Regions from separate parts of the Homo sapiens genome. Here regions 2, 3, 4, 5, 6 and 7 are each linked to region 1. Evidence: fine-mapped expression QTL. A gene starts in region 1. Each other region holds a variant in brackets. All regions are shown on one strand. Distances are from middle to middle.

Evidence for each region.
Region 2: its variant is fine-mapped to the expression of ABCC1 in whole blood (INTERVAL, PIP above 0.99).
Region 3: its variant is fine-mapped to the expression of ABCC1 in whole blood (TOPMed, PIP 0.91).
Region 4: its variant is fine-mapped to the expression of ABCC1 in whole blood (INTERVAL, PIP above 0.99).
Region 5: its variant is fine-mapped to the expression of ABCC1 in whole blood (TOPMed, PIP above 0.99).
Region 6: its variant is fine-mapped to the expression of ABCC1 in whole blood (TOPMed, PIP above 0.99).
Region 7: its variant is fine-mapped to the expression of ABCC1 in whole blood (INTERVAL, PIP above 0.99).

The regions. Positions count from the first base shown.
Region 1 is chr16:15,946,856-15,951,441 of GRCh38, reverse strand. ABCC1 (ATP binding cassette subfamily C member 1 (ABCC1 blood group)) reads right to left here and starts at 1,826. Exons shown (of 31, transcript NM_004996.4): 1 at 1,643-1,826. The coding sequence starts at 1,690. LOC107984869 (a long non-coding RNA gene) reads left to right here and starts at 2,271. Exons shown (of 3, transcript XR_001752339.2): 1 at 2,271-2,651.
Region 2 is chr16:16,002,253-16,006,587 of GRCh38, reverse strand. The region is part of intron 1 of ABCC1 (ATP binding cassette subfamily C member 1 (ABCC1 blood group)); the gene reads right to left. Among named protein-coding and RNA genes, the nearest start is that of ABCC1, 55 kb to the right of the region's middle. The variant A/CA (reference allele first, on the strand shown) is at 2,644.
Region 3 is chr16:16,080,744-16,085,329 of GRCh38, reverse strand. It overlaps ABCC1 (ATP binding cassette subfamily C member 1 (ABCC1 blood group)), which reads right to left. Exons shown (of 31, transcript NM_004996.4): 17 at 1,788-1,964. Among named protein-coding and RNA genes, the nearest start is that of ABCC1, 130 kb to the right of the region's middle. The variant T/A (reference allele first, on the strand shown) is at 2,359.
Region 4 is chr16:16,092,294-16,096,879 of GRCh38, reverse strand. The region is part of intron 19 of ABCC1 (ATP binding cassette subfamily C member 1 (ABCC1 blood group)); the gene reads right to left. It also overlaps the pseudogene RPL17P40. Among named protein-coding and RNA genes, the nearest start is that of ABCC6, 130 kb to the left of the region's middle. The variant GAGAGTCACACTGAA/A (reference allele first, on the strand shown) is at 2,583.
Region 5 is chr16:15,991,610-15,996,195 of GRCh38, reverse strand. The region is part of intron 1 of ABCC1 (ATP binding cassette subfamily C member 1 (ABCC1 blood group)); the gene reads right to left. Among named protein-coding and RNA genes, the nearest start is that of ABCC1, 44 kb to the right of the region's middle. RefSeq lists enhancers at 3,773-4,304, 4,305-4,586. The variant G/A (reference allele first, on the strand shown) is at 2,341.
Region 6 is chr16:16,023,650-16,028,235 of GRCh38, reverse strand. All of the region lies in intron 5 of ABCC1 (ATP binding cassette subfamily C member 1 (ABCC1 blood group)), which reads right to left. Among named protein-coding and RNA genes, the nearest start is that of ABCC1, 76 kb to the right of the region's middle. The variant C/G (reference allele first, on the strand shown) is at 2,788.
Region 7 is chr16:16,015,827-16,020,412 of GRCh38, reverse strand. It overlaps ABCC1 (ATP binding cassette subfamily C member 1 (ABCC1 blood group)), which reads right to left. Exons shown (of 31, transcript NM_004996.4): 5 at 3,792-3,917. Among named protein-coding and RNA genes, the nearest start is that of ABCC1, 69 kb to the right of the region's middle. The variant C/T (reference allele first, on the strand shown) is at 2,279.

The DNA of each region.
Region 1 (4,586 bases):
AGTCCTTAACGAAGGAAAAAATAAAAAGAAAAAAGAAAATAAAAATTTTAAAAAATATTACAACTGGACTTCGTGAATGAGTTTCTTAAGATAAACAAAGCGCACCCCAAACATACTCATTAGCCATCAACTACCAATTGCCATCAATAAAATACGTCCTGATACAAAACCTCATGGATGTTCACCCTGTTTTGCCCCCTCCTCAATTCAGAAGAAAATAAACAAGAGAATATTCTGGAATTCACAGCAACACAAACCCAGATCACCATGTGAATCTTTGCAAAAAATAATCTTGCTGTTACTACACCTGGCAACAAGGAAGCCACAGGTTTTCCCCTGCTAAAGAAAGTCCATCTGCAAAGAGGCTCCAATCACCCCCAGACCCTCAAGGCAAAGTCTGTGTTCTATTTCCACCCCTGGGGTTACTCTCCAACCCCACTGGCTTAAAATGGGAGATATATCAAAGTGTGGTAGGTTATTAAACACAATGATACCCTACTAAAAAAAACAAACAAACAAAACCAAACCCTCCAATGGGGCCCTGGAGGATGACTTTTCAACACTCCAAATGCAACCCTCGAGGAAAGGCCGGCAAAACAGGACAAGAAAGTATTTTTGGAAGCTGATCACCAGCTCCTAAGAACCAAGGCTGTTTCTCCTGATTCCTAAACAAAAGAGGAGAGAGAAACAGTCGTGTCCAGATTTGCCTACTGCGTTCACCAACAATCAAGACAGCACGAGACAGAAGTGCCTGCCTTCCTGGAACAAAGAGGCAAATCGCATTACGGAGAAGCTGAAGCCCAAAAGACTGGGGCTTAAACCACAGCAAGTGGACTCCAGACACCCAGTCAGGCTCCGCAGGCCACGTTACAGAAGAAAACTTGCCGGGGTTAAATCTAAGGGGCATCCCCAGAGAGGAGCTCCACGTGTTGCAGGGAAGGGAGGGCAGGACCACAGCTACCAGGGTCCTGGGCGTCCTCAGCTGCACCCCAAGTCTGCCCCGAGCCGAGGGTCAGGTAGGGCACATCAAGGGTGGACATCCCCCTTCTTCCCTGGTTCCCCCAAACTTCCCCCGCAGTATCTAAGTAGAAAGAACAAAAAAAACAAAGCTAGGTAACCACAGAAGAGTAATGTGGCTTGTACGACAACTTTGGGGAGACAATGAAAGTCCCTTTCTACAATCTAAGCCCCTCCCCAGCTCACCCCGTTGGTCACGGAGTATTTTTCGTGAAAAGGGGGGACCCTAACCACAAAAAAGATGGGAAAACAGAAGCAGAGAGACACCCCTCTTCCCGCCCCCCATCTCTAGCGTCCCCTTCCCTGGAAGGTTGTTTTTACAGACGGGAACCCCAAAACAGGAAGGCCTCCTCACGGCGGCTCTGACCCGACCCGACCCTCCAAAACCCCAGGGCTGGGCACGCGGCCCCCCACGCTCTGCTCCGCAGGAACTGAGTCACCCAAGTTTCCCCCATGCCTTGCACCCCCGAAAGGGGCTGGGCCGCGGGCGACGTGAGGGTCCCGGGCCCCCGAGGCCGGCAGCAGAGCGGGGAGCGGGGTGCCCCGGGCGGCTGCGGGCCCGGTGCTTTCCCTCCCCGCCGGCCTCCCTCCGTCCCGCCGGCCTCACGCGGCCCCCGGCACGTACCCAGAGCGGGTCGGAGCCATCGGCGCTGCAGAAGCCCCGGAGCGCCATGCCGGTGGCGCGGGCGGCGGCGGGCACCGGGCGGCGGGTGATCGGGCCCGGTTGCTGGCGCGGGCGGCGGCGGGCACCGGGCGGCGGGTGATCGGGCCCGGCTGCTGGCGCTAGCGCTGGCGGCGGCGGCGGCGGCGGCGCAGGGAGCCGGGGCCGGGGCCGCAACGCCGCCTGGTTGGCCCGCGCGTCACGGGGATGCGGCGGCCCCGCCCCACCCCGCCCCGCCCCGGCGCCCGCTCACCTCGCGCGTCTCGGCGTGGGCAGCCGGACCAGCCACCTCTCGGCGCCCCGGGCCTGGACCCCGCGCCACCCCCACCCCAGATCCTCCAAGGCTTAGGCCCACCCGCTCGCGGACGGGCCTGGGGAGCGTTGGCTCGCCTTCCGGAAGCGCCTGGGATCTTTGGGGCCACACACCCTGCGACCACTTTTCAAATGCTGTTTAAGGACAGTATCCGTCACCAGGGGAAAATAACGTGAACGGAGCCCCCTACCTGCCTGGAGTGTACCGGGCGCCTTAACTGTGCCCTCATTTCATCCTGTAAAGTCTCCACGTTCATGAAGGAAGAAACCCAGGTGCAGAGAGGTTGAGTGATTCCCTCTGCCCAGGGTCACCTGGCTAATCACTTGCAGGGCTGGGATTTGAACCCGGTCCGCTGACTCCAAAGCTGAGTCACACAGAAGGAGGTGAATACTGTTATTCACCTACCTTTTACAGATGGGGAAACTGAGGTTCAGAAAGGCGAAGTGACTTGCCCGAGGTCACACAGTTAATAAGGAGTGAAAGTGGAAGTGAGATTCAAACCCGTGAGCAGCCTGATTCCGGAGCACTGATGACCCAGACGGCGCCAGTCTCCATCACTAACAGCTGTTGACCTCACCTGTGTGCAGAGCGCCTTTGCTTCTTCTCAACCTCTTTAAGCATCACTTAGAAATAACCAGGTTATTGATCCTCACCTCAGAGGTAAGGAAACTGAAGCCTGGAGACATGATAATCGTAGGCCAGGCATGGTGGCTCGTGCTTGTAATCAAGCACTTTGGGAAGCCGAGGCGGGCCGATCACATAAGGTCAGGAGTTCAAGACCAGCCTAGCCAACATAGCAAAACCCTGTCTCTACTAAAAACACAAAAATTAGCCGGGCATGGTGGCGGGCACCTGTAGTCCCAGCTACTTGAGAAGCTGAAACAGGAGAATCACTTGAACCTGGGAGGCGGAGGTTGAAATGAGCTTAGATCACACCACTGCACTCCAGCCTGGGCAACAGAGCAAGACTCTGTCTCAAAAAATAATAATAAAAAAAATTAATATGCATTCACAGTGACAAGGCTTCCTAAGGCTGTGTTCTTAGCAATTTACACAAATTAACTTGTGCAATCCTCACAACCCCATGAGGTAAGAAGTAGTATTATCCCCATTTTGCAGATGAGGCCACTAAGGCCCAGAAAGACAGAGTACATTGTCAGGGATTATTTAGATGGTAAGTGATTAAGCCAAACTTTGAACCCAAGAAGTCTGGCCAGGGAGGTGGGAAGTCTATAATACCATCCATTGCGCCATATTAGTTTTGAACTGTTTCATAGGCAGACAGGTAGAGACAGAGGAGCTAGGGCGAGGCCGCAGAGTGTAAATTTCACTGTGATACCAGCGATGCCTTTCTTTTCTCCTCTCCTCCTTAATCTCCTGCCTGATGTGGGTTTCCATAACACATGCACACAACAGCTGCACCAAATAAAACAGAAACAGTGTGTGCATTTGAGACCTCCCCCCAATCAAAGGACCTAGCGAGGGAAGGAGGAAGGAGGAAGGTAGATAGGATTGTTTTCTGTGATTTTTTTATTGGCCCGGGTCCCCCAAGGGTGAATGAGTTTCTAAGGGATAATTACTTTCATGTAATAATGCCAGTTATGCTGTTGCTTGACCTTTATACTGTCAACAAATATTTATTGAGCATTTACTATATGCCAGATGTCTTGCTAGGAACAAGATAAAATTGCTACTCTTATATAGCTTAAAGGATTGGAATTTTTTTGGATTGGGATTTTTTTAAGTGTTTCTTATGGTAAGATGGCAGATGTTAATCAAATATTATATTTTTGAAAGGGTATTTACAGGCCAGAAGTAGTGACTCACGCATGTAATCTCAGTGCTTTGGGAGGCCGAGGTGGGAGGCTCATTTGGCCCAGGAGTTCAAGGCTACAGTGAGCTATGATTGCACCGCTGCACTGCAGCCTGGGTAACACAGCGAGATCCTGTCTCAGGAAAAAAAAAACAAAAAAAAAAGCCAGGGAAGGGGAGATATGTACAACTATGGTCACAGCTAGAAAAAAAAAGTGGTGGCCGGGCATGGTGGCTCACGCCTGTAATCCCAGCACTTTGGGAGGCCAAGGCAGGCAGATCACTTAAGGTCAGGAGTTCGAGACCAGTCTGACCGATGGTAAAACCCCATCTCTACTAAAAATACAAAAATTAGCTGGGTGTGGTGGCAGGCACCTGCAGGCTCAGCTACTCGGGAGGCTGAGGCAGGAGAATCACTTGAACCTGGGAGGCGGAGGTTGCAGTAAGCCAAGATCATGCCACTGCACTCCAGCCTGGGCGACAAAGCAATACTCTATCTCAAATAAATAAATAAATAAATGTAAAAATACAAAAATTAGCTGGACATGGTGGTGGGTGCCTGTAATCCCAGCTATTCAGGAAGCTAAGGCAGGAGAATCACTTGAACCCAGGAGATGGAGGTTGCAGTGAGCTGAGATGGCCCCACTGCACTCCAGCCTGGACGACAAAGTGTGACTCCATCTCAAAAACACAAACAAAAAAAGTGGGCAAAAGTGGGCCTAAGTTAGCAATTTATACCACCCTTGCTGGGGGGTGGAAGTCAGAGAAGGCTTCCTGGAGGAA
Region 2 (4,335 bases), 55 kb before region 1:
TACTTTTACTTAAAAAAAAAAAGCCTGTATTTTGCTAAAGAGCCATGCCAAATAGACAAATTCATAGATACATACATAAATAGATCAGATGTACCTGCCCAAGAATAAACCTCCACCATCAGCTGTTCTGTAATGAAGAATTTAAATTTTTCTTTTTTTTTTCTTTTTTTGAAATGAGGTCTTGCTCTGTTGCCCAGGCTGAAGTGTGGTGGTAAGATCACAGCTTCCTGTGCCTTGAACTTTTGGGCTCAAGCAGTCCTCCCACCTCTGCCTCCCAAGCAGCTATACTACAGGTGTGCACCACCATGCCCAGCTGAAGAATTTAAATTTAATTCAAGCCATAATCTGGCAACTGACTAAATAACTTTGGGAAAACTTACTACCCTTTTTGGGGTCTCAATTTCCTATCTCCACCACAATTCAATCGGATAAAATAAGAAGTACAAAATAGGTTTCCCCACCCACAGTTTGGCCCATAGATGGCTTGTTGTTATTGCTGTTGTTTTAGGCATACTTTTTGTTTTTAAAAAAATTAGATTAGATCCCAACATTTAAAATTTGATTTCCGGCTTTTTATTTTTATTTTTTTTTTTCTTGACAGAGTCTTGCTTTGTCACCCAGACTGGAATGCAGTGGCATGATCTCAGCTCACTGCAATCTCTGCTTCTCGGGTTCAAGCGATCTCGGCTCACTGCAATCTCTGCTTCCCGGGTTCAAGTGATTCTCCTGCCTCAACCTCCTAAATAGCTGGGACTGCGGTCACCCCGCTTGGCTAATTTTTTTTGAATTTTTAGTAAAGACAAGGTTTTACCATATTGGCCAGTCTAGTCTCGAAGTCCTAAACCTCAGGTGATCTGCCAACCTCAGTCTCCCAAAGTGTTGGAATGACAGGCGTGAGCCACCACGCCCGGTCTCTGGCATAACTTTAAAAATCAGAAAATCTTCTGGGCGCAGTGGCTCACGCCTGTCATCCCAGCACTTTGGGAGGCCGAGGCAGGAGGATCACGAGGTCAGGAGATCAAGACCATCCTGGCCAACATGGTAAAACCTCATCTCTACTAAAGTACAAAAAACTAGCCAGGCATGGTGGCGCATGCCTGTAGTCTCAGCTACTTGGGAGGCTGAGGCAGGGGAATCACTTGAACCCAGGAGGCGGAGGTTGCAGTGAGCCAATATCATGCCACTGCACTCCAGCCTGGCAACAGAGCAAGACTGTGTCTCAAAAAAAAAAAAAAAAATCAGAAAATCTGGTGGTGCTGGGCCCCATTCCTGTTACATGACCATCAGTAGGAGCTGGGAGGGGCCAATCTTTAGATTAGGCCCAGTTGTCCATTTGGCTGCGGTCCCCAAAAAGCCCACTTCTCCCACAGCCTTCCCATCCTACTGGCCTATGCACCCTCCAAATAGCTCTGATTCCAACAGCCCTCCCACGATCACCTGAGACCCCCATGGAGTGTCAAGGAACCCAGACCCTTACAGCTCCACAGAGCTTTAAAGCCATATCAAAAAAAAAAAAAAGTTAAAAATGAGAAATGAGGGAAATAAGATCACTTCACTTAAAAAAAAAAGTGTCAATCTGATCAAAATATACATGTTCCAATAATTAAAGAGATCTAGTTATTAGGTTGGGCGCGGTGGCTCATGCCTGTAATCCCAGCACTTTGGGAGGCCTAGGCAGGCAGTCAGGAGTCTGAGACAAGCCCGGCCAACATGGCAAGAACCCCCCATAAAAACATAATTTTTATATTTTACTAAAAACATAAAAATTAGCCGGGCAGGGTAGTGCACGTCTGTAATCCCAGCTAGTAGGGAGGCTCAGGCAGGAGAATCACCTGAACCCGGGAGGCAAAGGTTGCAGTGAGCTGAGACTGCACCACTGCACTCCAGCCTGGGCAACACAGTCTCCATCTCAAAAAAAAAAAAAAAAAAAGTAAACCTTACAAGGCCAACACATACAAAGAGATTTAGCCAGGAAACATCAAGACACAAACCCTAAAAAGGACAAAGTTCACGTCTTTTTGGCCTGGCGTATTTGGAACACAGCCTTGTAAAGAAGAAGTTGATCGTGGAGAAGGCATGACATCTCAAAGACTGATTATTTTAATTGATTTCATACTACTGTTAATTCCTGAGGTGATGGCTGAAAAAAGGATTAAACTGTTGGTGGTCATTATATACAGAACAGCTTCTGAGCAGTTGCCAGTAAAAGCTCATTCCAAAGGAATGTGCCCTGCTAGAAAGAAAACGATACCAAGACTTGACATATGCAGTTATGTATACAAGAGACATAGTTCCAATGTTAAACATTTAATTGACCTGATCCTAGCCCCAAATTATTCCTTGCCAGGACTATGCAACTGCTTCCTAAGTCTTCACTGCCTCCAGCCTCTCCTTGTCCTACTGAGTCCTCCCCGCTACAGCCAGTGCTCCCCACCACAGTCAGTGTTCCCCACCACAGCCAGTCCTCCCTATCATAGCCAGAGAATTATCTATGTACACATCCATATGTATACCCATGGATATATTTATCACCCAACCATGAACCCATCCATCCATCCATCCACCAATTCATCCATCCACCCACCCACCAATGCATCCATCCACCCAACTACCCACTCACCAATTCATCCATCCACCCCCCCC[A/CA]ACCAATTCATCCATTCAGCTACCCACCTACCAATTCATCCACCCATCCACCCACCCACCAATTCATTCATCCATCCACCTACCCATTCACCAATTCACCCATCCACCCTACCCACCTACCAATTCATTCACCCATCCATCCATCCACCCACCCACCAGTTCATCCATCCATCCACCCACCCACCAATTCATTTATACATCCACCTACCCATCCACCAATTCACCCATCCACCCTACCCACCTACCAATTCATTCACCCATCCATCCATCCATCCACCCACCCACCAGTTCATCCATCCATCCACCCACCCACCAATTCATTTATACATCCACCTACCCATCCACCAATTCACCCATCCACCCTACCCACCTACCAATTCATTCACCCATCCATCCATCCATCCACCCACCTACCAATTCATCCACCCATCCACCAACCCACCAATTCATTCATCCATGCACCTACCCATCCACTAATTCACCCATCCACCCTACCCACCTACCAATTCATTCACCCATCCATCCATCCATCCACCCACCTACCAATTCATCCACCCATCCAGCAACCCACCAGTTCATTCATCCATCCACCTACCCATCCACCAATTCATCCATCCACCCTACCCACCTACCAATTCATTCACCCATCAATCCATCCATCCACCCACCTACCAATTCATCCACCCATCCAGCAACCCACCAGTTCATTCATCCATCCACCTACCCATCCACCAATTCATCCATCCACCCTACCCACCTACCAATTCATTCACCCATCAATCCATCTACCCACCCAACAGTTCATCCATCCATCCACCAACCAATCCATCCACCTGTCTATGTATCCATCTACCCAACCAACTATCCATCCATGCATCCACCCATGTCTCCCTCTCTTTGTAATTATTTTTAATAGGTAATATATTTGTGTGCTAAAACTCTTTCAAATTACTCAAAAAGGTATACAGTGAAAAATATGTCTTTCTCCCCAAATTAACAGCCCCCCATTGCTACCCTACAGGCAAGCTACCATTGCTAACATCTTACATTCTTCCAGATATATTCCAAATACGACCTATTTTGTTGCCACAAAAGGCACTACGATACTCCATTCTATACCTTGCTTTTTTTTACTTAGCTAATATTAAAAACTGAACTTTTTTTTTTTTTTTTGAGACAAGGTCTCACTCTGTTGCCCAGGCTGGAATGCAGTGGTGCAATCATAGCTCACTGCAGCCTCAACCTCTCAGGCTCCAGCAATCCTCCCACCTCAGCCTCCTGAGCAGCTAGGACCACAGGCACACACCACCATGCCCAGCTAATTTTGTATTTTTAGTAGAAATGGGGTTTTGCCATGTTGCTCAGGCTGGTCTCAAAGTCCTGAGCTCAAGCGATCCACTCGCCTTGGCCACCCAAAGTGCTGGGATCACAGGTGTGAACCACCGCACACAGCCTTTGGAAACTATCTTTATCAGTAACATAGATGTGTTTTATTCTTGATATTTCTTTTGAACAAAGAGGTACAAGGGACAAGTCTTCTCATTCCATTCCCTATGGCCCTCCCCTCAGTTCCTCTCTCTAGAGGCAATGATCATGGGTTGCTTATGTCTTCTTTCAGAAAATATTTTATACAAAAATAAAGTAAATATACATCTTCTGTTATCAAATCGAAGGAAGCATACGTTACATAAT
Region 3 (4,586 bases), 130 kb before region 1:
GGGGTGCCAGAGCAAAGTGGCCAGGCAAGCAGCAGGGGAGGCACCCCAGGCCTTGAAGGCTCAGACCAAGGTGTGGAGGTGGGCAGGGGCTGGGGGTTGCTGTGAAGCAGCAGGAAAACCTGGGAGATGGAGCACAGCAGGAGGGAGGGTCTGCAGTGGTGAGAGGCAGAGAATGGCCCTTTTAGAGATGACAAAATGAGCAGGTAACAACATGGACACAGGAACCATGCTCTCTGCAGCTCTGTGGCTGTGTGGCCTCAGGTAAGTCACTTGGCCTCTCTGTGCCTCCTTTTTCCTCAATGATTACCTAGGTATAACAACAAATTCCACCCATGGGCTTGCTGTGGGGAAGAATTACGTGTAAAATGTTTAGCATAGTTCCCAACATACAGAAAATACTCAAGTTATAGGCCGGGCGAGGTGGTTAACATCTGTAATCCCAGCATTGTGAGAGGCAGAGGCGGGCAGATCACCTGAGGCCAGGAGTTCAAGATCAGCATGGCCAACACAGCGAAATCCCATCTCTACTAAAAATACAGAAATTAGCTGTGCGTGGTGGCAGGGGCCTGTAGTCCCAGCTATTCAAGAGGCTGAGGGAGGAGAATCACTTGAACTCAGGAGGCAGAGGTTGAACCAAGAGTGAGCCACTACACTCTAGCCTGGGCGACAGAGAGAGACTCCATTTCAAAAAAAAAAAAAGAACTTTGAGAGGCTGAGGCCAGCCGATCACTTGAGGTCAGGAGTTAGACACCAACCTGGCCAACATGGTGAAACCCTGCCTCGAATAAAAATACAAAAATTAGCTGTGCGTGGTGGCAGGGGCCTGTAGTCCCAGCTATTCAAGAGGCTGAGGGAGGAGAATCACTTGAACTCAGGAGGCAGAGGTTGCAATGAGCCAAGAGTGAGCCACTACACTCTAGCCTGGGCGACAGAGAGAGACTCCATTTCAAAAAAAAAAAAGAACTTTGAGAGGCTGAGGCCAGCGGATCACTTGAGGTCAGGAGTTAGACACCAACCTGGCCAACATGGTGAAACCCTGCCTCGACTAAAAATACAAAAATTAGCCGAGTGTGGTGATATGCACCTGTAATTCCAGCCCCTCAGGAAGCTGAGGCAGGAGAATCACCTGAACGCGGGAGGCAGAGGTTGCAGTGAGCTGAGATCGTGCCACTGCACTCCAGCCTGGGCAAGAGAGCAAGACTCCATCTCAAAAATAAATAAATAAATAAAAAGAAAGAAAGAAAAGAAAGAGAAAATGCTCAGTAAGTGTTAGCTATTGTGCTATTTTCAGTATTATGGCTATCTTGACAGGGACTGTGAACATATGAATCATCGACTCCCCTCCTCCCAACAGCATGCCCTCTGTCATGTGACTCTGCAGTCATGTGACCACAAAGGTAGAATGTACTTCCTTCTTGGTCCCTTGCCTTTGAGCTTGGCCAAGTGACTTGCTTTGTGAGTAGAAGGGACAGTGTACTTTAAGGGACATTGCATGCTTTCTGGGGGGCCTATCTTGGGCCTCTGCTGCCACCATGAGAAGAGCCCCCCTTTGGAAAGCTGTGGACCCCTCACCCCGGTCCCCAGCAAAAGCTCTGTAAGTGAGACCTGAGCCACACCCACAGCCTGGACCCAAGTTCAGCTGGCCTGCAGCGTGCAGCAGAGCCGCCCAGCTGAGCCCTGCCGGGTCAGCTGATAGCAGCAGACTCACAGCCCACTGAGATTGTGAGAGCATTTGTTACGCGGCAACAGCTGACTGATTCAGGGGCCAACATCCAACCTATACTGACCTTCTCGCCAATCTCTGTCCGATCCCCACTGGGCAGGATTTCCAGGTCTGGGAGGAGGGCACAGGCCTGTATCACGGACCTGTAATATGGTTCCTCCAGCTGACATCCAAAAAGGATGTTTTCTCGGAGAGAATCATTCTGAATCCAGGCCTGCTGTGGCACATAGGCCACGGAGCCCTAAGTTGCAAATGGAGAACGAGGTGAGACAGACACACAGACAGATCTGATCAACGAGACAACAGCTGGCCCACCCGCCTGCTAGGAGGGCCTCACTTCACAAGTCATTTTCATCACAACTATTGCTTTGGCAAGAGGGAAACTGACTCACAAAGGACAACAGATGCCAGGGCTGGGATCAGAACCCACAGCAGGTGAATCACTGACTCCAATATCAGGAGTCAAAGAGTTGATATCCTCGTTGATAAGATTACAGTTATTTACTTAGTAGCTAGCTATTAACTCAATGCCTACAGCGGTGATCAAAACCCCTGCTTCCAAAGAGTGGAAGTCCCTCAGGTGACGGAAAACTACTTGATTACAGTTACGGTGGACGCAAAGATAAAAAGATATA[T/A]GACACTTTTTAAGAGTCTAACTTGACTAGGCGCAGTGGCTCATGCCTGTAATCCCAGCACTTTGGGAGGCCAAGGCAGGCAGACTGCTTGAGGTCAGGAGTTCAAAGCCAGCCTGGACAACATAGAGAAATCCCATCTCTAAAAAAAATAGAAAAATTAGCCAGGCATGGCGCTGTGCATCTGTAGTCCCAGCTACTTGGGAGGCTGAGGTGGGAGGATCACCTGAGCCCAGGAAATGGAGGTACCACGAGCTGAGATTGCACCGTGCCACTGCACTCCAGCCTGGACCACAGAGCAAGATCCTGTCTCAAAAAAATTAAAAGACTGACCTAGTTTGGGACATCCGGGAAGGATCTTTGAGGAAATATCCTTGCTAAAAATTGAAGCAAAGACTCCTATATCAAGCATCCATTTCAAAGGCTTATTTTTATTTCCATATGTCAGGTATCACAAACAGCATGAGAATAAAGGCTAGAGTAAGGATATTTGTTTTGTGTATTTTGCTAATGAAAATGCTGAGGTAGTTAATTCTCTATATATTTATTACGTTTGTAGAAACAAAATCTTGCCATGTTGCTAAGCCTGGTCTCAAACTCCTGGCCTCAAGCAATCCTCCTGCCTTGGCCTCCTGAAGTGCTGGGATTATAGGCATGAGCCATCATGCTCAGCTCAAACATATGTTTAGACAAGAACCAAAAAGTGAAGAATGAGTCAGTTTCATGAGGAGAAGAGGGAAGAGCATTCAAGTCCGAGGGAACAGCACATGCGAAGGCCTGGAAGTGAAAAGTACTTGGCACATTCAAGGAACAGAAAGGCCAGCGTGACAGGAACATCGATCAATCCTGTGAGGGAACGACTGGCAGAAAACACACCAGGGACAGCAAGGGGGCCTATACTTGGTGGGGAGCATGGGCTTTATCAGAGGGGCAAGGGGAGCCCCTGAAGATTTTTTTTTGAAACGAAGCCTTGCTGTCGCTCAGGCTGGAATACAGTGTCAAGATCTCAGCTCACTGCAGTCTCTGCCTCCGGGCTCAAGGGATTCTCCTTCCTCAGCCTCCTGAGTAGCTGGGACTAAAGGCACACACCACCAGGCCCACTAATTTTTGTATTTTCAGTAGAGACGGGGTTTCGCCATGCTGGTCAGGCTGGTCTCAAACTCCTGACCTCAGGTGATCAACCTGCCTCAGCCTCCCAAAGTGCTGGGATTACAGATGTGAGCCACCGCGCCCAGCCAGAAGATTCTTGAATAAGGGAATTCTAGAGAGGGCAAAGCTGACAGCAGGTCCCAGGTACCCTCATTCTTACTCTAAATTCTCAAATAATTAACCTGCTGACTTGAATATCCTAACTTTTAAAAAGCCAAAATGTCAACAGTGGTGCCTTACCATAGAACCCACAGAAATTTCAGACATAATATACACAAACCACACCAACTAAAACATTTGGGAAAAGATAAATATTTTATATACATTTCTAGCACTCCCCTTACCTAGGCCAAACAACCAATAATAAATAATCATCTGGCCTGAAATGCTAATAGTGCCAGGATAGCAGAAAGCTGGGGTTAAGGAAACAGAAAGCAATGTGGATCCCATCGGGATTTGGAATTTTCTTCCATTAATCTAGCTCTCATGGTTCATTCATCTTATTTTATGGCAGGAACTTGAAAGTAATGATAAAACATTTCTTAAAACAACAGCTAAAGGTCATTAATTTGGACCCAACCACAATGTATACTTTCTAAAGGCACTGTATAATCAAAGAAAGGGTTTTGCTCTGAAATAAAAACAATGTCATTAACTAGGCCAGGAGCGGTGGCTCACGCCTGTAATCCCAGCACTTTGGGAAGCCGAGATGGGGAGATCACCTGAGGTTAGGAGTTCTAGACTACCCAGGTCAACATGGTAAAATCCCGTCTTTACTGAAAATACAAAAATTAGCCGGGTGCAGTAATGGTGGGTGCCTATAATCCCAGCTACTCAAGAGGCTGAGACAGAAGAATCGGTTGAACCCAGGAGGCAGAGGTTGCAGTGAGTCAAGATCACACGACTGCACTCCAGCCTGGGCAACAAAAAAAACTCTGTCTCAAAACCCACAACAACAAACAACGTCATAAACTTGACATTCCCAAAGGCAGATTCCAAGAGACAAATGTGCAGTTGCACAGACACTAAAGAGGTGCGGACAAGTACACCTGGGACACATAAGGTTAAACAGTTAATAGATT
Region 4 (4,586 bases), 150 kb before region 1:
CTGAGTTCATGCAACCACCAGGTGTTGGGTTTTGGATGCTGTCAAGCCAGGTGCTGTTTCTACCCTTGACCCACGTACGTTAAGTGCTGCCCCGGGTCTGTGTATTCCGTTGCCAGTCCTCTCACTGTTTATTCCACCAACACTGCCTTTACTCAAGAAGGTTCTGGAACTCTGCTTGGGCAAGGTCCAGCAGGCCAGCCTCCCCGGAGGGAAGAATTCAACTCACAGCTTTATAGTCAACGCCTCATTTTTGACCAAAAACGGCATTCACTGGCTGCCTCACTGACCTCCTCCCCCAGCCTCGGCAGAGAAAGCTCTTCATCCTCAAAAGAGGAAGAAATCCGGCCTCTGAGGACAGCCAGAAGGAATGTGGGGGTCTGTCTGATGAACTCTCTCGGCAGCTGCTCTGTGCTGACAACTAATTTGTGTAACTTGGGGAGGTGCTTATGGCCCACTGTTAAGAAAAGAAATCAAAAGGTGGCAGGAGATGAGAAAACTCTAAGATATACTCTCAATCTTGTCAAGGGAGAAGGCCTAGGAAGGAAGGACAGGTGAAAAAGATGCCAAAGCTAACAACAGCTCCCCTTCTGGGCAGTGAGGGCAGAAAGATGTTCTTTCTCGGGAGTTTTTTTTTGTTTTTTTGTTTTTTTTTTGAGACAGTCTCGCTCTGTTACCCAGGCTAGAGTGCAGTGGCACAATCTTGGCTCACTGCAAGCTCTGCCCCCCGGATTCACGCTATTCTCCTGCCTCAGCCTCCTGACATTTCTGTATTTTTAGTAGAGATGGGGTTTCACCATGTTGGCGAGGCTGGTCTCGAACTCCTGCCCTCAGGTGATCCGCCTACCTTGGCCTCCCAAAGTCCTGGCATTACACATATGAGCCACCTTTTTTCCTGATTCTTTGTACTCTTTTGTAGTTTGCAAATGTCTACGATGAGCACATGTTGCTTTTATAATCATTAAGAAAAACTCGGTAAATACTTAAGAGGGAAAAATATTTGCCATGAGGTTAACAGATGGTTCAAGCAAGGTTTTGAAAAATGGCCACGGGCCAGGTGCCGCGACTCATGCTTATAATCCCAGCATTTGCATTTTGGGAGGTCAAGGTGGGAGGATCGCTTGAGCCCAGGAGTTCGAGACCAGCCTGGGCAACAGACTGATATCCCATCTCCATAAAAAAACATAAAAATATATAAATAAAATTTTTTAAAAGAGAAAAATGGCCACATTGTTGGAATAAAGATCCTTCTCCCAAGAGGACAAGGGAAGAATTCAGCAGTGTGAAGTCGGAGCACACAGGGTTTCTTGCTCGTGGTGCTTTGGATGTCCTGGCAAGGGGATTCCCTGTCACGGGGGGCAGGGTAAGGGGGAATTCGTCTTGAGTGCTGTAGGATGTTTAGCGACATCGCTGGCCTCTACCCTGCTTGCCTGCCAGGGGCAAACCCCACTCCAGTTTTGACATCCCAACATGTCTCCAAACATTGCCAACTGTCCCCAGGGTGGGGGCAATTTGCCCCTGATGGAAAACCACTGCTCTAGGTATTAGGTTCCTAAGAAAGAAACCAGAGTCATGAAGATGTGTTTTACCTTCCAGGTATGAAGGTTAATGAGCCATTTTTTTAAATCCCTTAAAAATTTGTTCCCCTAAGGGGCTTGAGGCAATCTGTGAAAATGGTTCACTATTCACTTTATCCAGAAAACACCACAGAATCATGCAGATCAAGAGGTTCAAATCTTCGTGTTCACCTTAAGAACATTTGTGAGGCCGGGCATGGTGGCTCATGCCTGTTATCCCAACACTTTGGGAGGCTGAGGCAGGAGGATCCCTTGAGGCCAGGAGTTTGAGACCAGCCTGGTCAGCATGGTGAAACCCCATCTCTACTAAAAATACAAAAATTAGCTGGGCGTGGTGGCACATGCCTGTAACTCCAGCTACTCGAGAGGCTGAGGCACAAGAATTTCTTGAACCCGGGAGGTGGAGGCTGCAGTGAGCCAAGATCGTGCCACTACACTCCAGCCTGGGCAACAAGTGAGACTCTGTATCAAAAAAAAAAAAAAAAAAAAAAGGCCAGGCGCAGTGGCTCACGCCTGTAATCCCAGCACTTTGGGAGGCCGAGGCGGGCGGATCATGACGTCAAGAGATCGAGACCATCCTGACTAACACGGTGAAACCCCGTTTCTACTAAAAATACAAAAAAAATTAGCTGGGCATGGTGGCGGGCGCCTGTAGTCCCAGCTACTCGGGAGGCTGAGGCAGGAGAATGGCGTGAACCTGGGCGGCAGAGCTTGCAGGGAGCCAAGATCGCGCCACTGCACTCCAGCCTGGGCGACAGAGCAAGACTCCGTCTCAAAAAAAAGAAAAAGAAAAAGAACACTCCTGAAAGCGCCCAGGCCATCAAAGGTATGCACGTACAAAAGGCCACAAAGTATCAGAAAGATGCCACTTTACAGAAACAACATGTACCATTCTGACATTATAATGGTGGAGTTGGTAGATGTACCCAGGCCAAGAAGTGGGGCTGGCCACAAGGTCGGCGGCCCAAAAAGAGCACTGAATTTCTGCTGCACATGCTTAAAAATACA[GAGAGTCACACTGAA/A]CTTAAGGGTTCAGATGCAGATTCTCTGGTCCTTGAGCATATCCAACTGAAGAAAGCACCTAAGTTGCGTCGCCGGACCTACAGAGCTCAGGGTCGGTCGGATTAACCCATACGTGAGCTCACTCTGCCACATCCAGATGATCCTGCCTGAAAGGGAACAAACTGTTCCTAAACCGGAAGGGGAGGCTGCACAGAAGAAAAATATATCCCAGAAGAAATTGAAGAAACAAAAGCTTATGGCATGGGAATAAATTAGGAATAAAAGGAATGCCATTAAAAGTTAAAAAAAAAAAAAAAAAAAAAAGGAGAGAGGGAGACAAACAGTAAAAAAGATATATTTCTTAGAAATCAGTAAACTGAATATCCCGGGAGAGAGGTCGGTATGGCCCCATTCACAAGCCTGGTTCCTGCCCATCCCCCCTCAAGGATTCTCCCAAACCAAATACCAACACCTGCACCCCTTCAGCCTGGGTGTTCTAAAAAAAAGAGCTGATTAATCCAACAAGGAAAAAAGTTCCCCTTTAGGAAGAGCCAAAAATGTGGTTTAAACAAACCCAAGGTCATTGGCGCTTCGAGTTGGCTAAGGCTGGGCAAGACCAGACCCTGATGTCAAGACTTTATAGCCAGGGCCCCTCCAGAGCAATGGAAAAGGGTGGGTGGTGAGAGAGGGGGGTGCCCCAGTTTGATGTAAGACCCACTGCCAAGGACTTCTATGTAACCTCAAAGGCAGGAGGTAGGGAGGTCAAACTGGGAAAATGAACGCACGAGGTGCCAGGGTGGTGGGCGGCATTTGCATCACCAAATTAAGTGCTGATGTGTACAAAAATCACAAAGCATCTGGCAGCCTTCCATGTTCTGTATACACTGCTTGGATACTCTAGCAGCTGGGAAAGAAAGGCGGGGGTGCGGAACCTATCTGGGGCCAAGAGAGTTTAAGGACATTTTTTGCTCACCTGGACGGAAGGGTAGAGAGACAGACCTCACGCTGGGCAAAAGATTCAGCTAAACCCACACATTTTGATTTAGAGAGCACAAAGGGTATTGTCACCTAAAAGTAGCCTGCCAAGCAGGTCAGTGAAAAAGTCACCGAGAAGTTGCCACAATGCATTGCTCGGGCTGAGAGATAGACAAAGGGGGATTCTGCAGCAAGAAGAAACAGGCTAGACTCAAGGTAGAACTTCCCAACCACAAGGGAATGAACATGCAGAAATTCAGTCTAATCAAATAATTTAAAAGCTGAAGGGAATGTCAGCTATCATGCACTGGCAAGAAACAAAAATCCAACTGTATTTTGAGACATGGTCTTGCTCTGTCACCCAGGCCAGATGGAGTGCAGTGGCATGATTTTGGCTCACAGCAGCCTGACTCCCAGGCTCAAGCGATTCCCCCACCTCAGCCTCCCGAATAGCCGGGACTACAGGTGTGCACCACCATCCCAGCTAATGTTTGTACTTTCAGTAGAGACGAGGTTTCACCATGCTGCCCAGGCTGGTCTTGAACTCCTAACCTCAAGTGATCCACCCGCCTTGGCCTCCCAAAGTGGTGGGATTACAGGCACAAACCACCACACCCGGCCACCAACTTTTCCTTTAAAACCACCAGGGCTCATGACAGCAGTATTCACAAGAGTCAGAAAGTGGAAAAAACCTGAATGTCCATCAACCAGTGAACAGATCAACACAGTATGGTCTATCTGCACAATGGCATATTATTCCGCAATAAAAGGAAATGAAGCTACAACATAGACGAACCTTGAAAACACCACGCTAAGTGTAAAAGCCGCCAGTCACAACATTCCACCTATTGTGATGGCATTTATATGAAATGTCCAGAATAAGCAAATCTAGAGAGACAGAAAGATTAGTGGTTGCCTAGGGCTTCGGAGGTGCTGGGGAAAATAGGGAGTCATGGCTGATGGATTGGGGTTTCTTTTGGGGGTGATTAAAAAAAGTTCTAAACCTGACTGTGGTGATGGTTGGATTTTGTGATT
Region 5 (4,586 bases), 45 kb before region 1:
CTGGCCAACATAGTGAAACCCTCTCTCTACTAAATGTACAAAAATTAGCCGGGCATGGTGGCGTGCGCCTGTAGTCCCAGCTACTCAGGAGACTGAGACAGGAGAATCGCTTGAACCCAGGAGGTGGAGGTTGTGGTGAGCCGAGATCAGGCCACTGCACTCCAGCCTGGACAAAAGAGTGAGACTGCATCTCAAAAAAAAAAAAAAAAAAAAAAAAACTTAGCTGGGCGTGGTGGTACACACCTGTAATCCCAACACTTTGGGGGACCGAGGCAGGAGGATCACTTGAGCCCAGGAGTTCGAGACCAGAGGTGGCAATGGAGTGAGACTCCCCACCTTCTACAAATAAAAAAATTTAAAAGTAGCCAGATGTGATGACGTTTGCCTTTAGTCCCAGCTACTCCAGAGGCTGACGAAGGAGGATCCCTTGAGCCCAGGAGTTCGAGGCTGCAGTGAGCTATGACTGCACCACCGAACTCCAGCCTAGGTGAAAGACTGAGACCCTGTCTCAAAAATAAATAAATAAGTAACTTGCAACAGTCGGGTTCTTATTGCTCAGTGGACATTTATCAGCGACTACTACCATGGGCCAAGGTCATGTGGAAGTAAAATAAAGTCTCCACTCTCACACAATTTCACTTTATGCAAAGCGGCCAAAACTACCAACAGCTAAAAAAAACAACTCTATGTATGCCCAATGGGAGCAAATGGCTTGAAGAAGAAGAAAGTGGGTGAAGCATAATGGTGGGTGGGCAGGTGCTAGTTCTTTATCAGGTAGACAGAAAGGGCCTCTGGGCCAAGATGACATTTCAGCAAAGGGCGAAAAGCAATGAAGAAACCTGTGCCGCCTTCTTCTGTCTATAGAAAGAGTAAGAGGGAAGATTCATTAGTTGCATCAGCCAAGCACCACTCTAAGTGTTTCACATTACATTTCATCCTCACACACAACTCTAGGACTCAGGTACTATAACGTAACCCATTTTACAGATACAGAACCAGGCCTGGTCATATATAACCTGCAAGCAGCATACACAGTCAGGAATTTGATGTTTCGTTTGTTTTTTGAGACGGAGTTTCGCTCTTGTTGCCCAGGCTGGAGTGCAATGGTGTGGTCTCGGCTCACTGCAACCTCCACCTCCCGAGTTCAAGCAATTCTCCTGCCTCAGCCTCGCAAGTACCTGGGATTACAGACGCCTGCTACCACGCCTGGCTAATTTTTGCATTTTTAGTACAGATGGAGTTTCACCATGTTGGCCAGGCTGTTGTCACATTTCTGACCTCATGATCTGCCCTAATCCCAGCTACTAGGGAGGCTGAGGCAGGAGAATTGCTTGAACCCAGGAGGCGGAGGTTGCAGTGAGTCAAAATCACACCACTGCACTCCAGCCTGGGCAACAGAGCAAGACTTCATATTGCAAAAAAAAGAAAAGAAAAAAAGAAAGAAAAAAAGCTAATTAATCTGCAGGGGGTAGGCCTGAAACCAGGGAGAGGAAGGCAACTACTATTTTTTGTTGTATTATCTTTCGTACTGTTTGAATTTTCTCCTCTGCATGATTTCTAAAATAATAATAAGAAAGCTAGTTCGCACTTCAAATAAATAAATAGCAGCAGGAATTGAAGGGTAGGACATTTCTAAATGCTGAGTTGGAAACAAAGAGAAAGCATGTATTTATTGGGTGCCAATAATAACAGCCAGAGTGATCACGCCAGGCACAGTGATTAAGTGCTTCCCAAGCACAGTCCATTTAAGCTTTCCAACAGCCCTACAAAGTCAGGACTATTAAAACTCTCCCCTTTCCTGGCAAGGGCTCTGAGGTCCAGAGAGTTTATGTAAATTGCTTGGGCTCGTCAACCTAGAAGAAACAGGGCCAGGATTTGAACCCACTGAGAGTCTGACACTGAGATCCACCACCTCTAAACCACGTGCTTGAACTCTAAGGCCTTTTGGTTTGTTTGGTCAGCTGGTTTTGTTTTTTGAGACAGGGTCTCACTCTGTTGCCCAGGCTTGAGTACACTGGCACCATCACAGCTCACTGCAGCCTCGATCTCCTGGGCTCCAGCAATCCTCCTGCCTCAGCCTCCCAAGTAGCTGGGACTACCTGGCACGCATCACCATGCCTGGCTAATTTTTGTATCTTTTGTAGATTCAGGGTTTTACCATGTTGCCCAGGCTGGTCTTGAACTCAGTCTGCCCGCCTCGGCCTCCCAGAGTGCCGGGATTAGAGGTGTGAGCCACCATGCCCAGCCAGAATTCTAAGGTGTTTGCAAGGTACATGGCAGACAGATGGAGCCTGAGGTCGCTTGGAGGCAAGATCTCCAGGGCCGGAGATCAAGTGAATG[G/A]CCTCAGGCCTCACAGATTCCAAATTCATCTCCCTAGAGCAGAGAAGCAAGATTTTGACTCAGACATGGAAACATTCTACAACTCTTCCCACCCACCCACCCCCGCATGTGAGCAGTGCAGGGTAGTGGTTAACAAAACAAGGTTCCAGGTCTAGGTTCCCGTCTCCACCACTTACAGATGTGTGCCCTCAAGCAGGGCTTCTTCAACCTCAGAACCGCTGGTATTTGAGCCCAAATAATTCTTGGTTGTCGGGGGCCATCCTGTGCATTGTAAGATACTGAGTGGCGTCGCTGGCCTCTGCCACTAGATGATAGTAGCACTCCCCACCTCCTCAAGTTATGACAATCAAAACTGTCTCTAGACATTGCCAAATATCTCCAGAGAGGCAAAAATCATCCCTGCTGCCCTAAAGCAAGTCAGTTCACCTCACCAGGCCTTGATTTCTTCATCTGTGAAATGGGACTAATTCTAGAACCCACCTATTACAGAGTTTAGAGAGTTATCAGGAGGGTTCAATCAGGTGACCCAAGTGCCAGGTTGCAGGAGCTGGTGTTCCCGGCAGCCAAGAGACGGATTAACACAGATAAGTGCAGGGTTCCTGTCATGCATTCATTCATTCAATCTATCATTCGATGACTGTTTATTGAGCACCTACTATATGCCTAGACCTGGGCTAGTCACAGGCATGGGGGAAAATCAGAAACGATATCTCTGTCCTCTTAAGACTCATAGTCCATCAAAGATGAAAGCTCACAGATAAGAACATAATGACAAAGAGCAGTACCTGCTGTGAAGGAAAGAGCAGGGGTGTCAGGACAGGAAGCACCAGAGTGGCGGTCTGGGCAGATGACATCCTAGCAGACTGGAAGGGTCAGGAAGAGCTGGCTGTGCAAAGATCTCGGGAAGCACATACCAGGCAGAAAGATGGCACAGGCAAAGGCCACAGTGGGGTGGGGTGGGGGGAGGATATGGCTGCACCAATGAGCTAGGACCCAAGATTGGGCGGGAGAAGTCACCAAAGGCCACCACATAGCCAATCTTGGAGGCATGGTACAGAGCATGGATTTTTTGTTCTAATTCTCACAGGAGGCCCTGGGAGTGCATTAAGCAGGGTCATGGCATCGCCTAATTCACATATTAAGACAGTGGTCCCTGGCCAGGCACAGTGGCTCACGCCTGTAATCCCAGCACTTTGGGAGGCCGAGGCGGGAGGATCACCCAAGGTTAGGAGTTTGAGAGCAGCCTGGCCAACATGGTAAAACCCCGTCTCTACTAAAAATACAAAAATTAGCCAGGCACGGTGCCATTGTGCCTATAATCCCAGCTACCCAGGAGGCTGAGGCAGGAGAATCGCTGGAACCTGGGAGGCAGAGGCTGCAGTGAGCCGAGATTGTGCCACTGCACTCCAGCCTGGGCAACAGAGCAAGAATCCATCTCAAAAGAAAAAAAGACAGCCATCCCCTTTTTGGCAGCAAGGATAGGTTTTGTGGAAGACGATTTTTCACAGACAGGGTAGGGGATGATTCGAGTGCATTACATTTATTGTGCACTTTATTTCTATGATTACATTGTCATATATAATGAAATAATTATACAACTCACCATTATGTAGAATCGGTGGGAGCCCTGAGTTTGTTTTCCTGCAACTAGATGGTCCCATCTCAGCTGTGATGGGAGACAGTGATAGATCATCAGGCATTGCATTCTCAAAAGAAGCACACAGCCTGGATCCCTCGCGCACACGGTTCACAGCAGGGTTCGCGCTCCTATGAGAATCTAATGCCACAGGTGATCTGACAGGAGGCAGAGCTCAGGCGGTGATGCAAAAGATGGGGAGCGGCTGTAAATACAGATGAAGTCTCACACGCTCGCCTGCCACTCACCTCCTGCTGTGTGGCCTGTGGCCTGGTTCCTAACAGGGCATGCATGAACTGGTGCCAGTCCGTGCTCTGGGGATTGGGGACCCCTGTATTAAGAGACCCTAGGAGAAGATCCTAGGGGAGATGGGAAAGGAGGCTGCAGCCATTGTCAAGGCAACGAAAGGGGTGACAGAGAAGCATGGTTCAAGGCCACTGCAGAGTCGGCGTGTATGGCCTTAGCACATTTACTCCTCCCCGTAACTCTAGGAGAAAGGTGAGGACCAGCAAGGTGAAGGAACAGCCCATAAGTGGGGATGCAAGGATGTCTGACTTAGATTCCATCCCGAGACAGGCACAGTGAGTACAGGTGCTGCTTTGTGACACCG
Region 6 (4,586 bases), 77 kb before region 1:
TGCAACAAAGGAAAAAGGTCAGTCATTTGAGGCCCGATATCACCCCTTAATCACTGAGGGTTGAGGTAGGCAGAGGTTAACCAACCGTTTCTGGAAACGGCCAGCTGATAACAAAGGAACAAAGGAAAAGGAAGGCGGCAGGGGTGGAGGGGCAGCTTCTGTGTGAAGCAGTGCATAGCACGGGGCTAGCTGGCACGGCTCAATCCCAGCTTGCCATTTCCTAGCTGTGGGACCTTGGGTCAGTTCCTTGGTGGTGAAGATTAAATGAGATCAAACATGGTAAGTACTTAGAATAGTACCTGGCACAAAGTAACAGCCAAAGAAAGGGTAACATGAGTAGTAGTAGTAGTAATAATAATAGAAGCAGTGACAGTAGCCTCTGGTATATGGAAACATAAAACTGTACACCTTAAATATATTTTCGAGACAGGGTCTCGCTCTGTCACCCAGGCTGGAGCACGGTAGTGTAATCATAGCTCTTTGCAGCCTCGACCTCCCAGGTTCAAGTGATCCTCCCACCTCAGCCCCCCAGGTAGCTGGGACTACAGACGCACACCACAACACCCAGCTAATTTTTGTATTTTTTGTAGAGACAGAATTTCACTCTATTCCTTGAGCTAGTCTCGAACTCCTGAGCTCAAGTGATCCACCTGCCTCGGCCTCCCAAAGTCCTGGGATTATAGGCATGAACCACCGTGCCCAACCTATATACCATTTTTATTTGTCAATATACATCAATAAAGCTCAAGTGTTTGGGGGGGAAAAAACCCCAGTGGGTTCACAATACACCACTATACCAGATGCTTTATATATCAGAAGCATCTATGGCCCACAGACCAGCTATTTATAAATAAAGTTTCATTGGAACAGTCACACCCATTCATTTATGTATTATAAATGAGTATGGCAGCTTTTGAGCTACACAGCGGAGTTAGGGGTTGCCACAGACAGTGTATGGGATGCAAAGCCTCAAGTATTTATCAGCCAGCCCTTTCCAGAAAAGGTTGGCTAACCTCTGCCTACCTCAACCCCCACAACATACCAAGACACAGTGATTAAGGGGTGAAAACAGGCCTCAAATGACAGTCTTTTGCCTGCAAATCCAGTCTTCTTCAGCCTTGGCATCAACACGCAGGATAGAGACAGCCAGGGGAGGCTTGAAATGCAGCCCATATCCAGCTTAACAAGACCCTCAAATCCTAACCTTCCCTCGGCCCAGTAAAACTAAGTCCCCAGCCACTGGTAGAAAACCTGCCCTGCAAATGCAACAAGGACATTGACAGACAGAACACTGCACAGTTTTTTGTTTTTTGTGTTTTGAGACTGAGTCTCACTCTGTCGCCCAGGCTGGAGTGCAGTGGCCCGATCTCGGCTCACTGCAACCTCCACCTCCCAGGTTCAAGCAATTCTCCTGCCTCAGCCTCCTGAGTAGCTGGGATTATAGGCATCTGCCACCACACCTGGCTAATTTTTGGATTTTTTGATAGAGATGGGGTTTCACCATGTTGGCTAGGCTGGTCTCGAACTCCTGACCTCAACTGATCCGCCTATCTCGGCCTCACAAAGCGCTGGGATTACAGGCATGACCCACCGCGCCCAGCAATTGCCATTTCTAATTTGCACACTCAAAGAGCTTTGTCAAATTCTTCTCCTCAGGCCGCCTCTCTTCTATGGATCTAAACACAGATTTTCAGATTATCTCAAGTGACCGATAGGGAGGCCAACACAGGGTCCCCCCTTCACTGGCAAAAAAAAAAAAAAAAAAAAAAAGGAAATAGCCTTTTTTTTTTTTTTTTTTTTTTTGAGACGGTTTCACTCTCATCGCCCAGGCTGCAGCGCAATGGTGCGTTCTCAGCTCACTGCAGCCTCCGCTTCCCAAATTGAAACAGTTCTCCTGCCTCATCCTGCCACATAGCGGGGATTACATGGTGCACACCACCATGCCTGGCTAATTTTTGCATTTGTAGTACAGACGGGGGTTTTATCATGTTGGCCAGGCTGGTCTCAAACTCCTGACCTCAAGCGATCCACCCACCTCGGCCTCCCAAAGTGCTGGGATTACAGGCATGAGCCACTGCACCCGGCCTGGAAACAGCCTCTATCTGACGTGGAAGGCCTTACTTGACAACAAAGACAACTAACTTCTGAAGTAGGTCAAGGATTGACAATAAAAAAGGAGGAAAAAAAATCATGGGGCACTGGATTGTAATCCAGGGAGCATGTCATTTAACCCAAACCAAGGAGAATCTTTTGACATCACACACTAGGTACAAAAGACAGAGCCACCTCCAGGGGGTTTCCCAGCCTCAGACACTGAAATACAGTAACTCCTGTCCCAGATAGCATGAAAGCAGCTTGTGAACTGGTCCCTCTTTCATTTGAAATGAAAACAATTCAGAGAAGTCCTGGCTGAAGGCAGAGGGAGGAAAAGCCTGATTCATCCAAACAGAGTGATGTGTTCTTTGGCATCCACCATATTGACATCTACGTTTGGTACCAGATGAGCTGGCCAGAAACCCTGTGGTTTGAACCAATTAGGTACGGCAGCCCCAGGCACTGATTCTTGGAGCGCAGGGTAGTTTAAGGACCTTGTCTGGGTCTTTCAGCATGTTGACCTGTTTGTCAGAAACACTCTCAGCTTTTAGTTCTAACGGGTTTTCTGCTGGTTACCTCCGCTCTGCACTGCCAAAGTGCCCCCCACAACCCCTGCACCCAGCAGGAGGCAATGCGTGCAGCAGCAATAATGTTTAGAGCAGTGATCCTCAAACGCAGCTCTGTCACCAGCAT[C/G]GGTGGCACCTGGGAACTTGTTGGGAACCGCAGATGCTCGGGCCCCACCCAGACCTACTGCATCAGAAACTGTGTGGGTGGGGACCAGCAATCTGTGTTTCAAGCGTGAGAACCCAGTGGGAGGGTTCCTGACACATCACCACTCTGACCCTCAGTGTCTTCATCTGTCAAGTGGGGAGACTGATCATCCTGCCCTACTGTGAGGACTAAATAAATAATACAGTGCACCCAGCTGTTATCCTTATTATTAGACGGAGCCTAAATGTCCAGCAGTAAGAGATTTGCCAGTATAACGTAAACACTGGTGATTTGTTTGCCCTGTTGCTTACCAACTGTGCAAAATGCCTCCCTGCCCAGGACCTCCGTTTCCTCTACTGGAGCACACCCCAGAATCTTTGCCCATGCCCTTTGCCCATCAACTTGTCTGTTTTCTTTGTTTTTTTGTTTCAAGAGATGGGGTCTCACTATGTTGACCAGATTGGTCTCAAGAAATCTTCCCCCCTAAGCCTCCCAAAATGCCAAGACTACAGGTGTGAGCCACGCACCTGGCCCTTTTTCTGGTTTTTGATGCTGTAGTGGGCACAGGGGAATATCCTGGCTCAGCCTCCCTCTCTACCTGCCTGGGTGCCTGCAAAGGCTTTTTAAGTGCCACCGACCTCACCCCCATGTCCAATGTATCCTCTTCCTTTGAGCCTGAGGATCTTCCACAACCTGTCCAACCTGAGTGTGTCATTCCACTGGTGAAAAACCTTTCCTCAGCTCCCACCACAGTAGGGTTAAAATTCCAAGTCCTGGCTGGATGTGGTGGTTCACCCATCCCTGTAATCCTAGCATTTTGGGAGGCCAAGGCAGGGCATCACTTGAGCTCAGGAGTTCAAGACCAGCCTGAGTAACATACAGAAACCCCATCTCTACCAAAAACAGAAAAAGTTACTTGGGCGTGGTGGCACGCAACTATGGTCCCAGCTACTTGCGAGGCTGAGGTGGGAGGATCGCTTGAGCCCCGGAGGTGGAGGGCACGGTGAGCTGAGATGGCACCACCGCACTCCAACCTTGGTGACAGAGTGAAACTCCATCTCAAAACAAACAAACAAACAAAAAATTCCAAGTCCTTATTGTGACACATAATTGCACCCTTGATCTCTGATGCTGACTCTTGCCTCTCTTTTCGCTTACATCCTAGCCCTTCCAATCTAGCCAAGCAGAATTCTTTTTTTCTTTCTTTCTTTTGAGACAGAGTCTTGCTCTGTCGCCCAGACTGGAGTACAGTGGCGCGATCTCGGCGCACTGCAACCTCCGCCTCCCGGGTTCAAGCAATTCTCCTGCCTGAGCCTCCCGAGTAGCTGGGATTACAGGCATGCACCACCACACCCAGCTAATTTTTTTATGATCAGTAGAGACGGGGTTTTACCACGTTGGCCAGGCTGGTCTTGAGCTCCTAGTCTCAGGTGATCTGCCTGCCTCGGCCTCCCAAAGTGCTGGGATTACAGGCATGAGCCACTGCACCCAGCCTAGCCAAGCCGAATTCCAAGTGATTCCCAACACCCACAAGCTCCCTCAACTGGACCTTTGCACATGCCAGTTGCTCTACCAGGAGCACCCTCCCACCCCACCACCTCCAAACATATTCACCTGGCCAGAGCCTCGCATTCCTTAGACTTGAGCATCCCCTCTCCTCCCTGGATGCTAGCCCTGGAGCCCCAGGCTGAGTCAGGGACCACTCTCCCAGCCCCCACAACTCCCAGCACTTCCCTCCCTCAGAGCCCCCACTGTCCATCCTGCAGTTGTTGGTTCAACTG
Region 7 (4,586 bases), 69 kb before region 1:
CAAAAAGGTAAATGGCAACCCCATGGGGTTCCTGAACAGGAACCCAGAGGGAAGTTCAGGCTTCCTGGACAGAGAGTGTCAGCCAATCAAAGTGTTCTCTCCTGGACAGGTGCACAAATGTCAGAAATGCAGCAGCCTGCACACCCACATTTGACACCCTGCTGGATCTCACTGCACAAGAGGCAGACCACAGCCGGGCACGGTGGCTCAAGCCTGTAATCCCAGCACTTTGGGAGGCCAAAGTGGGCGGATCACTTGAAGTCAGGAGATCGAGACCATCCTGGCCAACACGGTGAAACCCCATCTCTACTAAAAATACAAAAACTAGCCAGGCATGGTGGTGTGCGCCTGTAGTCCCAGTTACTCAGGAGGCTGAGGCAGGAGAATTGCTTGAACCTGGGAGGCAGAGGCTGCAGAGCCAAGATCATGCCACTGCACTACAGCCTTGGCGACAGAGCGAGACTGCAAAGAGACAAACCACAGTGTCTTCCACCATCTTGGAAGACCAGCAGTGACACAGGAGGAGCCGAGCTGGGGGAGATGACACAGAAACAGAAAACAATGACTGGGGAGAAGAGTCAGGGTGTCCCAGCCCCACAACAGTGTAGCCTTTTAGCCGCCAGAGCTGAGAGCTTCATGTCACCCAGGGTGGCAGAGCAAATCCCAGGCCCAGGCTGCCAGGAATGCAGAAAGCACAAAAAAAGGTCCAAGTCAGATCTGTGAGTCACCCTGGTACACACACGCCCAGGGGAGAAGTGAAAGGGAATTTATCCAGATTCCCAAGGGAGATCAGAAATTAAGAAAGTCCCTCCTTCAAAAAGCTTCCAGAACCATCCATGGCAAGAGAGCTCTTCCCAGGCTCCCAGAGGAAGCTTGATGGGTTGGGTGATCCCCACGCCAGCCAGGCAGCCCCAACCAGACTCTGTTTACCCTGAGCAATCCAAGGTCTGCAGCCACCCAGTTGAGGTGTGACTTGTTTTGTATAAATCCCAGTTCTAAAGAATGGCTCGGCCAGACACGGTGGCTCACACCTGTAATCCCAACATTTTGGGAGGCCGAGGCGGGTGGATCACTTGAGGTCAGGAGTTCGAGACCAGCCGGGCCAAGATGGTGAAGCCCCATCTCTACTAAAAATGCAAAAATTAGTCGAGCATGGTGATGGGCGCCTGTAATCCCAGCTACTCAGGAGGCTGAAGCAGAAGAATCGCTTGAACCCAGGAGGCGGGGTTGCAGTGGGCCGAGATCATGCCACTGCACTCTAGCCTGGGCAACAAGAGCAAGAATCCGTCTAAAAACAAAACAAAACAACAGAAAAAAACAACAAACAAAAGACAAAAAAGAATAGCCCAACATTTGACAAACAGGGACACTCGGCTGCCACACACTTACACACACTGATACACAATACATATAACAGCCACTGACTCATGAGCCCCTCTCTTCTGTGTCAGGCACCAGCCAGGGATCCAAAATGGGGTGACCCCTGGGCTCAAGCGATCCTCTAGCCTTGGCCTTTCAAAGTGCTGGGATTACAGGCATGAGTCACCATTGCCTTTGTGAACTTTATACATATGCAAGCACACACAACACAAAGACACACACACACACAAACACACACATACATGAACATAAACACACTCACAAGCACACATTCACATATAAGCACATACACGCATATACATGCCTATGACTACCGAGACACACAAGCAGGCACATGCACACGTACACACAGATGCACAGGAATACATACACAGATGTGTGCACTTGCTCATTTCTCCAACCCAGCTCCTCTTTGGGCAAGGAAATACCAACACGGGACTCCTCAGAACATACACTGGGACATGCATTTCTTTTTTCTTTTTTTGAGACAGAGTCTCATTCTGTCACCCAGGTTGGAGCGCAGTGGTGTGATCTCTGCTCACTGCAACCTCCGCCTCCCAGGGTCAAGAGATTCTCCTGCCTCAGCCTCCCGACTAGCTGGGATTACAAGCATGCACCACCATGCCTGGCTAATTTTTGTATTTTTAGCAGAGATGGCATTTCACCATGTTGGCTGGGCTGGTCTCGAACTCCTGAACTCAACTGATCTGCCTGCCTCAGCTTCCCAAAGTGCTGCGATTACAGGTGTGAGCCACCACACCTGGCCTGAGACATAGGTTTCTAAAATCTCTTAGTTATCATCAACCTCCTCCTCCATACTGATGCCCACCAAGCCCTTTCGTCACCCACAAGGTGAGCCTCTGCCCCTCACAGAGGTTTAGGCCAAACCCAACAGAAC[C/T]ACAGAGGTGAAAAGTTCTCCCACTGCAATCCGCCCATTACCAGCTGACTAGCCATGAATCAGCATCAAATAGGTGCTCCAAGGCCTCCCTGCCCCATACTCACAATAAAACCCAAACAGCTCATCTGGCTCACAAGGGGGCTGTCCCACCTCTCAGGCACCCACTGTCTCTTAGCCTTCTCCTGCTGTGCTGGCTTTTCTTGCTGTTCTCTCCACACCTCCCCACCCCAGGGCCCTTGTACTTATTCCCCTCTGCCTGGAACACTCTTCCTCTAGGTGTTTGCTCCACCCACTACCTCACCCCTCTAGGTCTCCGCTCACATGCAGTTTTCTGGGCAGGCCTTCCCAGATCTCTCTTATCAAAAGCTGCACATGAGCCTGGGCAACACAGCAAGATCCCATCTCTATTTAAAAAAATAAAGAATAGGCGAGGCGTGGTGACTCACACCTGTAATCCCAGCACTTTGAGAGGCCAAGGCAAGAGGATCGCTTGAGCCCAGGGGTTTGAGACCATCTCCCCATCTTTAATTATTAATTAATTAAAAGTAAGCCAAGTTGGGGAGCAGGTGTAGGGAGAACATCAGGAGGAATAGCTAATGGATCCTGGGCTTGATTCCTAGATGATGGGTTGATCTGTGCAGCAAATCACCATGGCACACATCTACCTATGTAACGAACTTGCACATCCTGTACCTATACCCTGGAACTTAAAATAAAAGTTGAAGAAAGAAAAAAAATTAGCCAGGCATGGTGGTGTGTGCCTGTAATTCCAGCTACTCAGAAAGCTGAGGTAGGAAGATTGCTTGAGCCCAGGAGGTCAAGACTACAGTGAGCCGAGATCACACCACTGCACTCCAGCCTAGGCAACAGAGCAAAACCCTGTCTCAAAAAAAAGAAGAAAAGAATTAAGGGAAATTAATAAAGTGTTCCCTTTTGTTCTACTAGCAGAAACGGTGGCCATCTCTACACTCCTCACTGATAAGTTTCCATATTTACAGAATTTCTCTGAAACTGACAAAATAGACCAAGGATCTCACACTCAAATCCCTCAGGGGCCAGGCATTTGCCACAAGTGAGGAAAGCATGCCAGTATAATACAACAGGGAGTGCCGGGGACTCCAGCAACTCCTCAGCTCTGCCCTGTAGGATTATAGGCCTAATCTGTCAGAACTTTACTTTTCCAGAACATCTGGACAGCTAGAATTCATAAAAAATACCTGATTTGTAATTATCTGCTCACATTTTCCAAAATCACCATGCCAAGTGAGAAACCTACAGGCCTGCAAGACAGCAGTTCATCAATGACAAAGCAGATTCTCTCCTTCAGCTCCCCCAGCCACATCTAAGCCTCAGTTTTTCCATCTGTAAAGTAGGTGGGATGATATTCCCTGTATCAGGGGTTGAGGGAGGCTGGAACGAGATCCTGGATGGATCTAAGAAATGTTAGCTGGTACTGTGTCACGCATCTCTCTCACACACACACGCACACACACTCATCTGTGGTCACACTTACAGGGTCGTGGATGGTTTCCGAGAACAGGGGTGAGCGATCTGAGAAACAGGACAAGACGAGCTGAATGAGTAAGAGGGAAAAGTAGACGTAGAAAGTGATGTCACGAAACAGGTCCACCTGGGCATCCTACATGGTGGGGAAGGAAGGAAGAAAAAGATCACATTCTGGGGCTGGGTGTGGTGGCTCACGCCTGTAATCCTAGCACTTTTGGAGGCCGAGACAGGCAGAACACCTGAGGTCAAGAGTTGGAGACCATCCTGGTCAACATGGTGAAACCCCGTCTCTACTAAAAATACAAAAATTGGCCAGACGTGGTGGTGGGCAACTGTAATCCCAGCTACTCGGGAGGCTGAGACAGGAGAATCACTTGAACCCAGGAGGCGGAGGCTGCAGTGAGCCGAGATCACGCCACTGCATTCCAGCCTGTGTGACAGAGCAAAACTCCATCTCAAAAAAAAAAAAAAAAAAAAAACCAAGATCACATTCTGAGAGCAGGTGGCAGAAACCCACTCAGCCACAGGGACACTGCAGGCTCCCCAGGGGCTCCCAGCTCCCCCCGGGATGTAATGGCAGAAAGCCGGCTCCATCACGGGTAGTCTCACTGCTCACCGCTGCCTGATGGGAGGAAGACAGGGCTTGGGAGTGAAACAGAGCTGTATCAAGGCCTGGCTCTCTCACACTGGCTGTGGGATCTTGTCAACTTATTTAACCTTTCTGTGCCTCAGATTCCCCACCTATAAACCACCGGTGGTTCTTAACCAGGGGTGATTCTGCCTCCCAGGAAACATCTGGCAG